2 separate regions of the Homo sapiens genome follow, and region 1 is linked to region 2. Evidence: fine-mapped expression QTL. A gene starts in region 2. The other region holds a variant in brackets. All regions are shown on one strand. Distances are between the middles of the regions. Region 1 overlaps TMEM63B (transmembrane protein 63B). Region 2 holds the start of TMEM63B (transmembrane protein 63B).

Region 1 (8,322 bases), 22 kb before region 2:
GGGGGGCAAAGAATGGGGTTGCTATCTCCTGTGGGCCTCCCCACCCCAGCTTCTGATACCCTCTGAATGCAGTCCTCACTCTCCCAGGTGCTACAGACTGGCCCCAGCCTCTCCCAGGCCCCTTGCCTGCCACCCCCAGCCATGCGGCTTCTCCTGTGGCCTGCTCTGGCTGGAATCCACTCTGCTCGCCACCCCCCGTTCCCTGGGTAGGGATCCCTCACCCGTGCGCATGGTGGAAAAGAAGAGCAGCCAGAAGAGGCAGAGGATGGGCGCGGCCACCACCTGGTTCACAGCCCCCGAGTGGATCTTCTTGTCCAGCTTGGCCGGCAGGTAGGCGTAGTAGAGATTGTACCTGTCTACCAGGTGCTTCAGCAGCATGTACATGAGCCCTAAGGGAAGCCACATGGGCCCTGACCTCGGAACCAGTGCTGCCGAACCTTTTGTGTGTCTGTCACAGGTTGTTCTGGTCCTGAGAGTGCTGAAGGGTTGGCCCCCTCCTCCTGCCCGGGCCCCAGGACGGGATAGTGCCCCGTGCCCCAGCGTGATCACAGAACTTCAGCTTCCTCCGCTACAACCCCTCATTCTACTCTCCTCATCAGGAATTCTACTATTGGAAATCTAGTCATTTGAATCAACAAGCATCTTCTTAAAACCCGTATCATTTTTCTCTAACCCTGTCCCTAAACAGATACGTATAAATTAAGGGACAAGTTCTATTTCCCCAGAGGCTGAGGGATAGGGAGTTTCTAATGAGGACAAGGAAGTTAGTTTGGGAACTTGGAGCCTTCAATAACCAGGGAGGGTTGGTTAAGGAGTTAGGATGTTATTAGGGAGGAAAGTAGAGGCTACCAGTGGGGGTGATGGTTAAAGAGAAACTTTGCTAAACTTCAAAAAGGAAGAGAGACCTGGCCAAGTCACATAGCTCAGATACAGCAGACTATCTCCATGAGTGGCAAGGACCCATCCCACCCTGGAATCCAAGTCTTTCCTGAGTTTACAGGGTGGTGTAAAAGTGTGCACATGGATGCCTGTGTGGGAGTGTGTGTGTGAACATGTCAGCACGTATGTGATCTGTGTCCAAGCACATCCCGCTGAGGGAAGGCACAGGTGTGGGTAAGTATGGCCATGTTGGTGTGACTTTGCCCTGGGGCCCACATGCCAGCTGGGTCTGGCCTGAGCTGATGGCTCTCCCCCTCCTCCCCACAGGCCAGGCCCCAGACTGAGCCAGGGACCGGGCGGGAGCCCCGAGGGGCCGGTCTCCCAGCCGGGCCCTGTCCACTCGGGGTGGCCTGCATTCCTAGAGTGGAGAGGGTGAAGTCCTGGGTCCCCCCGAGCAGGGCCCAGGTCCCGGCGCGGCGGTGCCTACCGAAGGGCACGATGATGGGGCAGGTGATACTGTAGGTCATGACCACCGTGAAGACGCACATCATCCAGGCGTAGGCTGCGCCAAACTGGAACTCGTAGGCCTGATGCTGGGGGGGAGACGGGCAGGAGGATGGCTCAGGGAGGCAGGGACTGACCAGAGGGGCAGGGAAGGAGGGAGGGGGAAGGGAGCCAGGACCTCTGGGGCCGGAAAAGAAGCCATGGGGAACAGGACCTAATGTCTAGGGTAGGGTAGGGCAGAGCAGATGGAGAGAGGGGCTATGGCCGAGAGGAGGGTCAGGGCGGTTGCAGTGATGGGGCACGGAGAGGGGCCTTCAAGGGTCGGGGCCTGGCAGGTAGGGGGCAAGAGTTGGGTGGACTTGAGAGTGGGATGCCCAGAGCCCTCTTATTAAGACAGAGGGACCCTAGCGCTAGGGACCCAGATCTCCCCAACTCCCATCATAGAATGCTACTGTCAGAACTGGCAGGGGCCTTCAGGGTTACCTATGTCCACCCATGGCAGAATACGAAGGCCCCAGATATGGGAAGGGGATGGCCCGGATCCACCGTGAGTCAACTGTACTCCCCAAGTCTCAGCCCTCCTGTGCCCCTCAACCCTAGCGCGATGGCTGCTGTTTCTTGTTGGGCCACCAGGGGGCGCTGTGCGGGCCGCTGCTGCCCCAGGCGGCCGTACCCGCTTCACGTTGCGCCTCTCGGCGGCCGAGCGCGCCAGGCAGAGCCGGATCATGTACATGAGCAGGCCTGGGATGCGCAGCAGGTCCATGGCGTTGCCGATAAAGGCTGAGGCAATGACGTAGTTCACGAAGAAGGCGCCGTTGTCGGGCAGGAACACACACCTGCGGGCACCAGGTGCTCCAGCACTGCACCCTTGGGGTGACCCGGTGGCCGCCCGCCCACTGCCAGAACTACAGCACCCAACACCTCCACCACCAACATGCTTCTTCCATGTGGACACCCCCAGCTTAGCGCCCCAAGCACCTGTGCCCTGTTCCCCCCAGAGACATACAGAGTGGCAACAGACAGCTCCAAGAACTTGTGCCCCATAAAGACCCATGGAGAGAGTGCTCAAGACCACCTAAGGCTGCTAGAATGTTCAGGGGAGAACTGTCCAGGACCCCCAAAGACAACCCAATGAGACCCTCAAAGAACCCAAAGGCTGACAGCCCCAGGAACACCCAGAAGATTCCCCCACTTAGACCATAACTCGAGTTACCCCCAGAGTGTGACATGAGCCTCAGATACCTCCACAAACAAGCTTTGAGACCCTTCCCGCAACATCTCTGGGGGAGCCCAGGAACCTTTATCAGTGCCTGAGATGCCCCAAGTGTGACTCAAAGATCACCACAGATGGCCTACAGCAAAACCCCTAGAGTTTGTGCCCACAGCCATGGTGCATGACCTTCAATATATCCTCACATGATTCCCAGAGAAGATGCCCATACAGAACTCCACAGTTACATCTCTGAATAAAAGCCTGAAATTTTAGAGATGTTCCCAGAACTTGTACTGCTAAACATCCCAAAGTGTGAGTCCTTTAGCCTCCCCGCCCACAGACACCCCCAGAGTTATAAGGTCAAGAGCCTCCTACACATACCCAAAAATATGGGCTCTAGAGACCTTCAGGGATACCCCTAGTAGCCTCCAAGACACTCCCTAAGTATCACCAAGACCTCCCTAGAGATGGTTCCCCAAACCTCCCAAGTGGAACTCCAGAGACGCCCACAGTTAGTCCCAGAATATGGGCACAAGACACCCCCATAGAAACTACCAGAATGTGGAGCCCCAAGCCCCAAATATACCTTGAGGATGATCTTAGCATCCAAACAGGTTACCAGAGAGTGAACACCAACACAGACCCCAGGGACTTCTACCATGTATACACACCCAAGACACCTTGTGGGTGCCTTTGGGGTAACCCCGCCAGATCCTCTCTCTTCTGCCCCCTCCAGGAGTTGGAAGCTTTGTTGCACCCTCCCATGGGGCTGGCAATGTCTCTCAAGCATACCCACCCCTGCTGTCTGGTCTCTTTCCCTAGGGGCCCCAGTCACTCACTCAAACCGAATAGCTGCCTCAGCCAAGAATTTCTTATCAAAGAGCCAGCGGAAGAAGAGGTCCAGGCTGGAGGGAAGCAGAGGAGAGATGGGGTGGGAGCTGGAGTGGTACAGAACACCAGGGGAGGGGAAGTCCCTCCTCTGTGAGCCACTGGGGAGACTCCCAGACATGGGGTGGGTAGCTCAGGAGGCCTGGGGGTGGCCAGGCTTCCCATCTTGGGCCCCTTGCTTTGTAGGGGAGGTAGGGAGGCTGAACTGCTCTCCTCTCCCTATCCTGCTGTCCCCCTACCCTGGCTCCTGCCCCATCCTTCTCAACTCACCTGCTCAGTCCCAGCGAGGGTAGGAGCAGCACCATGAAGATGAGGAAAGTGTAGCACTTGTGCATGGTTGTCCTGTTCTCCCCAGAGCTGGAGGGAGGGGAGCAGGGAACGGTACAGGTCAAGTGAGCCCAGGCCCCAGACTTGCTCCCCCAACAAGGACAATGTCCAAGGAGTGTCCCCTGGGAAGGGTGGGCCTCCCAAGGTGAGGGTGCTGGGCACTACCCCTTCCCTACCAGCTGTGGGACTGCCCAGGGCCAGGAGCCTGAAGGGCAAAGTGCTGCCCAGAGAGGATGGGTCATTGAGGGCAGGCCACAGCGAGGTGTGGTGTGAGTGGAGGCACCTTACCGTGTCCAGTGGGCTTCAAAGAAGGCTGAGTAGTAGACGATGGTGGGAAGGAGGGCCGAGAAGCACCACAGCAGCAGGGTGGGGAAGAACTGGGT[G/A]ATGATGGGGTTCTGCAGCAGGGCACAGGGGGGCGTCAGGCAGGGCAGTCTAGGGGGCCCAGGTGGCTTTGCTTATGTGCCTCCTCCCCAGCTGGGCCCTTGGCCTCACAACTCTCAGGGCTCCCATGTTGGAAGCCCAGAACATCCGGAGGGCTGGGGTGAGGGTGGGGGCCAGGGCCATATGTATAACCCCAGGGTGGATAATACTGATAGTCAGCATTTGCTGAACATCTACTATGTTCTAAGCAGTGCTGATGTACTTGCCATGTCTTAATCCTCACAATAATGCTGTTACCCCATTTGACAGATGAGTAAACTGAGGCAAAAAAAAGATTCAATAGCTTCCCTAGCTAGCAAGCCATGAGGTAGGGATTTGAATCCATGCAGTCTGGGTCTTATCTATTATGGTATTATCACTCCAAGTGATTTGCAAACTGTCCTTCTTCAAACTCTGAGGTTCTAAAGAGGTATGCTCTATGCGTGGGAGGAGAGGTGAGGGGAGGCCAGGCAGACATGCATGCCACCCTACTGTCATCGGAGCAGCCCTGCTTTTCCACACTGGGTTTCACACCGATAAAGAGATCAGAATCCAAGTCCAAAGCCACTGATCTAGTTGAACCTTTCCATTTTTTCAGTTAGACTGAGGGGTGAGGGAAGGGGACTTCTCTGAGATCAGGACTAAATGCAGGCTCTCTCTCTTCCCTGGGTGTTTCTCCAGGTGTTGCACACCTGAGGGTGGCCTCTCTCAGGGGGAAGGTGGCAGGGAGCCCAAGGGAAGTGCACACAGGGGTTTTTGGGAGCTGGTTGGTGGCACGGGGTTGGAACAAGCAGAACGGGCTGGGCTGGGCAAGTGGAAGAGGGATCAGGGCCTGGTATCTGTGTGTTGTGACCCAGCGTGGAAAGTGACAGGGGCATGAGGCCTCACGTTGAGGTACTCCACAGGCTTGGTGACGTTGAACTTGTCCATGGTGGTGATGATGATGGCTGGAGTGGTGAGGAAGAAGAGGAGGATGAAGAGGACGACATTGATGACCAGGCAGCGCAGCCACCAGATGAAGCCTCGGATGGAGAGGTGCTCCCTGGCAAGGTGGGGAACCGGTCAGTCCAGGAACCAAGGGCAGGATTGGCCCCCAGTGACACCAAGACACTCCCTCTCCTCCGCCTACCTACTGAGCCCATCCCAGGCCCTGGAAAGCCTGCCCTGACACCTGTTTGCTCACCAGTAGATGTTCTGAGGGTCAGGGGCATAGGACACGGTCCAGTTGGAGATGTGCAGGGACTCGCTGCAGGATGAGGGGCGTGGCTCCCCACGGCAGGTGCAGCCCTGGCATTTACACACGTTGAAGTCCTTCAGGATGCTAGAAAGATGGGCACTGGTTACCACAGGCCCACCTGGAGGCCACACTGCTGGCAGAAGGCCATGAGCACAGGGGTCAGGGAGCCCTGGAGGGCTGCTCAGGGCCGAGGGCCGAGTTGGGGACTCACATGGCGGTGATAGTCTCATTGTGGAAGGTGACAAAGGCCATGCCAAGAGGCTTCTCATTCACCTTCTCCTTCTCCCGCTTGTAGTCTTCCTTCAGCTTCTGCTCCAGCTTTGTGTAGTACTCAATGGCCTCCACCTTTGTGGGAGGGTTAGGGACAGGGCCTCTAGTTGGAAAGCCAGGCTGGGGCCTGCAGCATCCAGCCCACGCTGACTTGGGGCTTCCTACAAGCCAGGCACTGCTCCTCTAAGCATTTTTTTTTTTTTGGAAACAGCGTCTCGCTCTGATGCCCAGGCTGGAGTGTAGTGGTGGAATCTCAGCTCACTGGAGCCTCAAGCTCCCAGGCTAAAGTGACCCTCCCACCTCAGCCTCCCAAGTGGCTGGGAATACATGTGTGCAGTACCATGCCTGGCTAATTTTTGTATTTTTTGTAGAGATCAGGTTTTGCCATGTTTCCCAGGCTGGTCTCAAACTCCTGGCTCAAGTGATCCACCTGCTTCAGCCTCACAAAGTGCTGGGATTACAGGCATATGCCACCGCACCCAGCACCTCTAAGCTTCTTTATATGTATTACTCACTTTACCCTCACAACACTCTCATAAGGTGGGTACGTTAACCCCATGAGGAAACTGAGGCACTGAGCAGTAAGCAACTTGCTCAAGTCCCCAGAGTCAGTGGGTACAGCACAACATTGTCCTTTTGGCTGACATTTTCTAATTTGAGGTTTGAAAACCTGGTCACTGTAGGGACATTAGACAAACCCAACAGTGGGAACTGAGGCTTCAAGGATTCCAGGGACAGGTGGGGACTCACTGAGGGCAGGGCCCCAGCCTTGCCTGCCCAGGACCTGTCCAACTTCTCCCGACTCAACAGCCAGCCCGCGTCATACCTGCTCACAGCCTCGCACCACACAGCAGCAGAGGTGGCCACAGGGCTTGGGGTTGATCATGGTAGGCACGTTCTCCTTGCTCTGGAGGTTTGTGAAGTACAGCTTTCCCCGCTCGGCCTTCTTCCTGTGGGACCCAGATGCCTGGTCACCTACATCTGGGGCTGGGGCTGGCTCAGCTTGGGGGTCATCTAGCTCACTCCCCAAGGACAGGAGCTGTCTTGTTCTTGTTTAGGATACATGTTTCAGATGTGGCCACATCCCAAGGTCTCCCCACCCATCCCTAGAGGGCCAGAAGTTCTTCCTGCAGGCTGACCTAAATTTCTCATACTGTAGCCAAAGAAGGGCATGTCCTCAGATGCAGTGGGGACCATGGGCCCCCCTTCCCCTCACAACAAACTCTAACCTCCAGGCCTTGCTCTTTCCAGAGCTGAATTAACAGGCACACCAACGAGTTGAATTAAAATCAAATGCCCTAGGAAAAAATCTAGAAGGGGAGCCTGTGTGGTAGCCAAGATGTCCTCCACAATGGCAGGGGGCCCTTGGTGTCACCCTCCTCTGCCCCCAGTCCCTTACCTCTCTGCATCGAGGAACATTAGGCGAGCCACGTTGTAACACGGGCGGGCTTCGAGAACTGTGCAGTTGGGGTAGGCTTCCCTGAAACACAGTTCATGTATCATCTTGTGCAGGGACCCCACCCACCTGCCCCTGACTTTCATCCATGACCCCATCACCTTCAAGAAACACATCTCTGGCTGGACGTGGTGGCTCACATCTGTAATCCCAGCACTTTGGGGGGCCGAAGCGGGAGGATCACCTGAGGTCAGGAGTTCGAAACCAGCCTGGCCAACATGGTGAAACCCTGTCTCTACTAAAAATACAAAAATTAGCTGGGCATGGTGGCACGTGCCTGTAGTCCCAGCTACTCAGGAGGCTGAGGCAGAAGAATTGCTCGAACCCGGGAGGTGGAGGTTGCAGTGAGCCAAGATCGCGCCACTGCACTCCAGACTGGGCGACAGAGCGAGACTCCATCTCAAAAAAAAAGACAAAAAAACCCACATCTCCAATTCAAGCTGCCTTTTTCTTAGTCTACAAAACTGAGAGTTCCCCAAGAATAAAGCTTTGGAGTTCCTCCTCATGCTTATCTGAGTGGGGAAGTGGGAGCAGAAGGCCTGAGCACTGTGTGACTGCAGGCTGGGCTAACAAACCAGGATGTGTAGGGACATACTGCATGCAGGTAGGGAAGCCAGGGCTATGGTCTGATTCCTGTCCAGGGCTGTGACCTTTAGGTTGAAAAAAATTGCATCTAGTCATAGGCTATATAATTCCTTAACCCTGTTCCCAGAAGACCTGGTCACAGCCCAACACTTAGCCTTGACCACAGACTGACCTCAACCAACCCATAACCCAGTCTACAAAATGATCTCTAACTTTGGCCCAAGACAGACAAGAGATTGATCCTGACCCCTGACCAGGGTGAGACTGACCTGTAACCCTGGCCAAAGACTGACCCTTAAGCCCACCCTGGCCAAAGACTGACCCCAGACCTGTTGCCCAGACCCAAGACTGACCTCCTAACCCTGACCCCAGATTCATCCTTACCTTGACTTAAGACTGACCAGAGAGAAACTGGCACTGACTCACTAGTACCTGGTACCAGGCAAGGCTTGAAGAATGCTTGCTGAGTGAAGGAATAGTTCATTTTTTTGTTTGTTTGTTTGTTTCAAATATTCTGAGATGGGGTCTTGTTGTATTGCCCAG
Region 2 (8,322 bases):
CCCCAGAGTACCATTCCTATCAACTCCTGTCTTCTCCACACCAAAGAAAGGTAGAGCATTTTGGAAGCTTCTACATGAAGTGGCCCCAGCAGGGTGGACAGGATCTAGCTAGATGGTTAGTAACTGAAATCACCATGCTCCTCTGCTGTCCGCCTCCTTGGGGTCACAAAGTACTCTCCCCTCCACAACAGCATTAATCTTCCCACCTGCATGGGAGGAAGGCAGGGCACACTCAGATCACTATCCCCATTTTACAGGGAGGAAGCAGGAACCCAGTAGGGGAAGCAACTTGCACAGTGACAGGACAGGTAAGGGGTGGAGCCTGGGCTGGCAGCTCTGCCAGTTGACAGGGCTGCTCCAAGCTTTTAATTGTGGGGGTGGGGTTGCTGGGTTGAGTTTCATCAAGGGCAGCTGCTCTCAAAGCCAGCACTGGGCTGAGCAACTGAGAAGAGGGAAGACATTGAGGCAGAATACCTTGGGGATGGGAGGTGGCAGTTCTTCCACTCCACGAGGTGCCTGCACCAGCTATATCCCAGTTTCTCTAGTCTGATATTGAGGTTTTGGTTGAGGTGTGTCCAGAGAGTGATGGAGCATTTTACTTCTAGCTAACTTTTTAATTTTACCATTAAGGAGTGTGTGCATGGTGGGGGTTGGAGAGCTATAACTTATAAGCTTTTTTTTGGGGGGGTTGTTGTGTATTTTTTTGAGACGGAGTCTCGCTCTGTCACCAGAGTGGAGTGCAGTGGCGCGATCTTGGCTCACTGCAACCTCTGCCTCCTGGGTTCAAGGGATTCTCCTGCCTCAGCCTCCTGAGTAGCTGGGACTACAGACACATGCCACCACGCCCAGCTAATTTTTGTATTTTCAGTAGAGACAGGGTTTCACCATGTTGGCCAGGATGGTCTCGATCTCTTGACCTCATGATCTGCCCACCTCGGCCTCCCAAAGTGCTGGGATTACAGGAGTGATATAAGCTTTTTCAGTGGAGTTACTGGGCAAGATTTAAGTTAGGGCTTTGGATCAAAGCAAGGCCATGTGGTCTGAGGGGAGGAGGGGAAGATGGAAGCGAGCTCTGTTACTACGAAACCTGAGTCTCAGTCTTCCAATCTGTAACAAAGAGATACAAATATCCTTACTCTACCCCTACCCACTTCAGAGAGAAAGGCAAGAATATATCCACAAGTGAGCATAAAAGTAGTAGTAGGTGCCAGGCACGGTGGCTCACACCTGTAATCCCAGCATTTTGGGAGGCCGAGCTGGGCAGATCACAGGGTCAGGAGTTCGAGACCAGCCTGGCCAACACAGTGAAACCCCGTCTCTACTAAAAAAATACAAAAATTAGCTGGGTGTGGTGGCATGCGTCTGTAGTCCCAGCTACTCGGGAGGCTGAGGCAGGAGAATCACTTGAACCCAGGAGGCAGAGGTTGCAGTGACCTTAGATCATGCCACTGCACTCCAGCCTGGGCGACAGAGTGAGACTCCATCTCAAAAAAAAAAGTAGTAGTAGGCAGGGTGGGGTGGCTCACCCCTGTAATCTCAGCACTTTTGAAGGCCAAGTGGGGAAGATACCTTGAGCCTAGGAGTTGGAGGCTGCAGTCAGCCATGATCATGCCACTGCACTCCAGCCTGGGCAAGAGAGCAAAACCTTGTCTCGAGGGGAAAAAAAAAAAAAAGCCAGGCATGGTGGCTCACACCTGTAATCCCAGCACTTTGGGAGGCTGTGGTGGGAGAATCACGTCAGCCCAGGAGTTCGAGACCAGCTTGGGCAACATAGCAAAACCCCGTCTCTACAAAAGATACCCCCCACCACCAAAATTTAGCTGGGCATGCTGGTGCATGTCTGTAGTCCCAGCTACTCCGGAAGCTGAGGTGCGAAGATCACCTGAGCCCAGGGAGTTCCAGGCTGCAGTGAACCAAGATCATGCCACTGCACTCCATCCTGGGCGACAGACAGAGACCGTGTCTAAAAAAAAAAAGGAAAGAAAAAAGAAAAACAGAAAAAGAAAAAAAAGTAGTAAAATAATAGTATTAAATGTTTATTTAACTCTTCTTTTGTGCCAAGCACTGTTCTAAGCACTTTACAAATGTAACTCATTTGCTCCCCATCACAACCCCAGGAGGACACTGAGATACAGAGAGAGTATATGAGCTGCTCAAGGTCACACAGCCAGTCTGTGGTAGACCCAGATAAGGACCCAGGCTGCCTGGCTCGAGTGTATGCTCTTAACCACTGCACTTTGCAGAGTTATCTGCAAACAAGAGCCACTTCCACCAGGGAGCCGGAGGCAGTCAGTTACCACACTGGAGAAATGCCATACCCTATTTCTACCTGCTTGCCTTTCCTCTTGCTTGTAGCTTCCCTCCACTCAGGCCTTGGGTTTGTGATTTCAGGTTCTGAGGCAGGCATAGGGGACAGGCACCATAGTCTGGTGGTTAAAAGCACAGACTCTAGGATGTGACAGACCAGGCTTCTAACCTGGGAAAATTACTTAGTCACCCTGGGCCTCAGTTTCTTCATTTGTAAAATGGGACAATAATCCAGTTGTGTTGTTGTTCTGGGGATTAAACAAGATGACTTATGTAAAGCTCTTAATATAGTTCAAGGCATATAATGGGCTCTAGGAATTAGTTATTGTTATTAATAAGGTATGGAATAAAAGGGGTTGGTTTAGAGAAAGAAAATTGGTAAAAACAAAAATAAGATAAAAACACAGAATGTAACATGATAGAAATATAACAGAGCCCCTCAGTCAGGTTGGGCTTCTTATTTAGACCTAAGGGTTTACACTGTGTTAGGGACTCTGCCACTGAGTGACAGGGAATATTCTCACTCTTTGAACATACCCCATCCATCTGTGGTAGCCTGGGAGGTGGAGGCATGGGAGAGTTATGGGTCAGAAGTTCAGAGATGATAACCCATTATTGATCAATTACCAGGAAGGATGCCAAGCTCTTTACTTCTGTTACCTTGTTTGATTCCCATGATAAAACTTGTAAGGAGGTGGTAGTAACCACACTTTTTTTCTTTTTCTTTTCTTTCTTTTTTTTTTTTTTTTTGAGACAGTCTTGCTCTGTCACCCAGGCTGGAGTGAAGTGCCACAATCTCGGCTCACTGCAACCTCCGCCTCCCAGGTTTAAGCCATTCTCCTGCCTCAGCCTCCTGAGTAGCTGGGATTACAGGTGTGTGCCACCATGCCCGGCTAATTTTTGTATTTTTAGTAGCGATGGGGTTTCACCATGTTGGCCAGGCTGGTCTCGAACTCCTGACCTCAAGTGATCTGTCCGCCTCAGTCTCCCAAAGTGCTGGAATTATAGGCATAAACACTTTTTAATGAAAACTGAGGTTCAGACAGGTTAAGTAACTTGTCAAGGTCACACAGCTGAAGAATAGTAGAGCTAGAATTTGAACGCAGGTCTCTAAGACTCTGCTATACTTGGAGAGAACTTGAATGATGTCCAAGGGGGTTCTTAGTTACCCACTGCCTGCCTTCTGCCTTGCCATGTCCCCATCCACCCACAGGCCAAGACTGCACTGAGTGAGCCAACAGCAGGCCCCAGCATGTGCCACCTGGGGCATGCCAAGGCCTGGACCCTCTGGTGCCCTGGAGGACAATCACGCTGCCAGCACACCCCCACTTGAAGCCTGGCTGACACTCCCACTCCCCACCTCACCCTGGCCTGGGAGGCAGGATGGGCCCCTCTTCAGCAGGTGTTGGGCACAGCCTCATTGCTCCCCGGCTGCTGCAGACTGGTAATGGGTAGGCAAGCCCCAGCCCCCCAGGGCGGTGGAGTGCTCAGGCTTGCCCCGAGCGGCCAGACCTCTGCCCAGGGGACCCAGGCAGGGGGCAGCACAGCGCCCCAAGGGCAGCCAGCCCCTCTGACCTCTCCTCCCCACTTCCCAAGCGTCCTTTCCTTTTCTGGGGAACAAGGTGCCAAGCTTTGGGACTGTCCGCCTTAGGCGGTCAAGACAGCCAGGAGGGACAAAGCGGCGCCCCCTCCCCACAACAGGGCCTTTGCCCCACTCTCGGTTTCGCGTCTGAATCTTTTCCCCACCGCACCCTCCAACGCAGGCCCGGGCGGCTCATGAATGAACTGCACTGTGTGGGGCGCAAGGAGAGGACACGCTCCCGGGGCCGGCCGCCTCTCCAGCCCGCCGACCAGTCAGTCCCCAGAGCCGGGGGCAGCGGCCGGCCTCGTGCCAGCACCTGCGAACCCTGCCCTTGCCCGAGCCCGAGCCCTTACCCCGGACCGGCTTCGGGTGTACTCGCCCCCGGGAGCAGCAGAAAAAATAAAAGGCACAGAAGGCATCGGACTTGGCGACCCCGGGGTCCAAAACTCGGGGGCGGGGGCGGCTAGTTCCCCAAACGGCGGCGGACAGGCGGGGCGCAGCTGGCACCCCCGAGGGTCGCGCAGGGGACGCGCACCTGCACCGGGCAGGTGGGAGAAGAGTGGCACTCGGGGGCCGGGGGCGGGGGTCCCACCCTTTGGGATCTCCCCGGGGCTGGGGAGAGCCGGCGGCGCGTATCTGGACCTCCGGCAGGGGTTGGAGGACTCACATTTGGCTCGGGATGGTGCGGGGTTGGGGGCAGCGCGCGCCACCCCTGGGTCCCGCGGGCCCGGGCACCTCTGGGTCCCGCAGGAGGTTGAAGGGAGGGGACGCGCAGCTGAGTCCAGGTTTTTTCTTTGGGTGGTGGTGGGATCTTCGAAGAAAAGAGCGAGGGCTGGGTAGGGGTCGCGTACTCACCCCCAGGCGCAGACTCGGCTCCGGCTCGGAGCCCCGGGTTGGGGCGGGGCGGGGCTGGGGGAGGGGGAGGGGGAGTCGCTGGGCGGCTCGAGCTCCGGGCTCCTGCGGCGGCCGCGGCAGTGTATGGGGGAGGGGGAGCGGGGGGAGGGAGGGGGAGGGGGCGGAGCCCCGCAGGTCCCGCCCCGCACGCCGGCGCACGCAAGGTGCGCGCGCACTCTCAGATCGCGTCCGCCGGGCTGGGCCTGGCGCGCAGGCGCTAGGAAGAGGCCGCGTGGGGCGAAGGCGGCGCTTGGCTGGTGGGGCCCGCGGCGGGATTTTCCCGGGCGGCGAGAGCGGTATGGTGGGGGGCAGGGGTGGGCGTTAAGTCCTCATTCCCTCCTTCTCCTCTTCCTTTCTCTGCAGTAGGGGAGGCCCACTCCCCGGGGTGAGTGAGGAGAGGCCAGAGTGGGAGGCAGAGCGTCAGTGGGAGGGGTCCCGACGGGGAGGGGGGGGTCCCGACGGGGAGGGGGGTCCCGACGGGGAGGGGAGGCCCCTTACCCGGATCCTCCTCCCTTCCGCTCTCCGTGGGCTGCTTCTGCGACCCCCAAGTCCGTGGCCGGCGCTCACCTGCTTTCCCCGGGTTGCGGCGTCGACTTGGGGAGGGCGGGCTGCGTTCAGCCGTCGCTGGTCACTCCGGAGCGTCTCCTCCGGCTTCTCCGCTTTCCGCGCTCCCCTCCCCTTTCCCAACTTAGGTCTGGAGATGAGTTAGCCAGACGCCTCTGTGGTGTGAGGATTGAGTTTTTGCTTTCACTCTGTCAACGCTGATGAGTGCGCCCTCCCCCAGGCCAGGGGGTTCCCTGGTTTCTTATTTCACCAGAGACTGCATCTACCAGTGATTAAGACTGGAAAGATGAAGGGAGAGACTGAGACTCTTTCTATATATCACCCACACAAATAGATCATAAAGGCACAACGGGCACCAACCTGGTCATTTAATTTCTGGTTCCTGGAGGGGACAAAAAGGAAGTATTGCTTTCCACAGCCGACGATAAATGAACTTTGCCACCGTAAGAGACGGACGGGACTGAATTTATAAAGAGGTTAAAAGGGCATATGACAGACACCTCAGGCTACTTGGGAAACTCTGGGAGTTTGGGAGATAATTAACTCTCAGGGCTGGTGGTGGTGGGGAACTGCCACTGCTGAACAGAAGGACACTGCCCACCTGGGGGGTTTGGATCTTGTAGTTGGTCAGCGTCTCTGCTGTATGCTGGATTTTCAAGAGTTCATTAGTAGCTTGTGGAATGCAACTGTAAGGTTTGATTTATTGCAGTGTTTTTCAAACTGAATCCTATTGGTGAGTTGGAAATCAGTTTAGTAGATCACGGCCACTTGAAATAGAAAATATCAGAGGGTGTTGCACTTAGGGTATTGTTTCTTGACACTTCAGGTGTACACACACGTGTGAGTGTACTAGGAGGTGTTCTACAGTGTGTTTCTGTAGGTCGCAGTGAGAAAAATTTGAAAAGCGTTGTCTCCTGTGCCCTTCTATTTGCCCTCTTGCCTTTCTTTGCCTGAGTTTTCAGTCACTTAAAATTGTCTGAGGATGCAGTTAGCATGCCAGGAATATACAGTAAAGAACAAGGTGGATCTTCTTCACGGAGGTTACTGTGTGAGACGAAAGACAGTTCACTGTTCATCACTGGAAATACTGTACGTGCTACTGAAAAACAAGGATTTTATTGAGGTAAGAAGTTGGTTGGCTTAATTAGGAAGGGCAGTTTTTCAACTGTGAAAGAAAGGAAGATGGAGATGAAGCCCGTTTTTGGTAAAGTGCTTGGTGGGAAGGGTCTTTGTAGGTTTGGATTCTGGGAGTTGTGAAATTGGTGTAATCTGTTGCTTGTGTGGAACAATAAAATTCACTTTGAGGTCAAATAGTATTATAATGGATATCTGAAAAATGGAAGTGGAAGCCATAGTTGTCTGGTTTTTGGATTTCTGAGGATCACTAGAAGGCCTTTTTTTTTTTTTTTTTTTTTTTTTTTGAGACAGTCTCTCTTGCCCAGGCTGGGGAGATCTGGGTGCAGCAGTGCGATCTCAGCTCACTGCAGCTTCTCCTGGGATCTAGCAATTCTTATGCCTCAGCCTCCCGAGTAGCTGGGACTGCAGGCGCGAGCCACCACTCCTGGCTAATTTTTGTATTTTTAGTAGAGATAGGGTTTCACCATGTTGCCCAGGCTGGTCTCCAGCCCCTGACCTCAATCGATCTACGCAACTCAGCCTCTCAAAGTGCTGGGATTACAGGCGTGAGCCACCTTGTCCAGCCAGAAGGCATTTTTTATATGTTTTTATTTTTTACAAAAAGTATAGTTATGAATCTGAGCATGTGGATTCCTGAACTATTTCTGCCTGTGCCTAATTAGGGTCAGCACCTAATCCTCAAGGAGTGTGTGAGCCATCAAGTGACACTTTCCAGGGCAAGCATTTCAGAAAGCCTGACATGAGAATTAAGTGCCTTGTGGAATCCTTGAAGAACAGTGGCCAAAATATTTTATTATTGCTCCTGAATATTAAAGATAAAATGTTTCCCTTGGGGCGGGGTGGATAACAACAACAAAATTTCCCTGGAGTCCACTTTTCAGGTGGTTGGGCACTGAGCATGGTTATTTAGACTCTTCTTAGCTCCTAGTCTTCAGTGTTGCAAGAATTCTTTAAAACCTATTTTGCTCCATTTATGTCTTTGGGATTATCATGCCTGGGCACACCTAAGGTGGATTTTCCTACTGTCAGGTTACTTGGATAGTTCTTAGGGCTGTAGGGGGGGTCTCGAAAAGCAGGTTATGGTTTAGCCTTCTATTTTATAGGCTCATGGTTTGTCTGGGTTGTAGCTTACCCTGGTGTGATTTTACATGTGTATTTACAGTGACAACTAGTATGCAAGAGAAGACTGCAGTTCAGATCTCAGAAATGTTGTTCTGGGTCAGGTAATATGCTGAATATTTAAAAAGGTCATAGTAAAGTAGCTTACCATTCACCAGTGAAACCACTCAGAGTAGGAGAGCCCTCTGTTAAAAACTCAAAAAATCTTTTATGTCTTAGAAAAGAGAGGAAGTAATTTACCATGTCCACTCTAAACTGAAAACACTTTCAGGGCTATGATCTTAAAGAGGCACCTATGGTGCTGCCCTGAGAATCAGGGAACGAGCTTGCTCTTCCTGGCCAGGATCTGGTAAACAAACTATCCTGCAGATCTAGTCTGTACTGGATAATTCAGAGAAGGATTGTCCACATTAAAATGATCCCTTACATGAGTGAAGCTAAAGCACTTCCATTTCCAGACCTCTTTGCTTTTCCCAATATGATCTCTGCTTGACAGAGAGTCGTTGAGACCCAGACAGGTGATTCCAGGGCCACAGACTTGGTGTGAGAGAAGGGGAGGATGGAGTGAAAGAGATATATGCTTTCCATCAGCAGCACCCTCCCACCCCCATTCTTTAACTTTTTCACACTACTCTCCTGCCTATCTGACATCTTAATAAACCTGGAGCCCACCTAAACCTGGCCCAATGGAGGTACTAATAGGAAGGGAATTATGTATA

The links.
Region 1: its variant is fine-mapped to the expression of TMEM63B in whole blood (INTERVAL, PIP above 0.99). The same link has a PIP of 0.9 or more in cerebellar hemisphere, cerebellum and monocytes.

The regions. Positions count from the first base shown.
Region 1 is chr6:44,145,743-44,154,064 of GRCh38, reverse strand. TMEM63B (transmembrane protein 63B) reads right to left here. Exons shown (of 24, transcript NM_018426.3): 11 at 7,138-7,218; 12 at 6,565-6,688; 13 at 5,680-5,813; 14 at 5,415-5,552; 15 at 5,120-5,273; 16 at 4,100-4,206; 17 at 3,755-3,841; 18 at 3,436-3,501; 19 at 2,057-2,219; 20 at 1,367-1,472; 21 at 222-389. LOC107986599 (a long non-coding RNA gene) reads left to right here. Exons shown (of 3, transcript XR_002956350.2): 3 at 88-227. Among named protein-coding and RNA genes, the nearest start is that of CAPN11, 8.9 kb to the left of the region's middle. RefSeq lists enhancers at 2,042-2,211, 4,726-4,895. The variant G/A (reference allele first, on the strand shown) is at 4,195.
Region 2 is chr6:44,124,101-44,132,422 of GRCh38, reverse strand. It overlaps TMEM63B (transmembrane protein 63B), which reads right to left and starts at 4,869. Exons shown (of 24, transcript NM_018426.3): 1 at 4,745-4,869. MRPL14 (mitochondrial ribosomal protein L14) reads left to right here and starts at 4,971. Exons shown (of 3, transcript NM_032111.4): 1 at 4,971-5,079. RefSeq lists silencers at 1,103-1,262, 4,189-4,348, 4,529-4,638, 4,679-5,078, 5,099-5,148 and 1 more.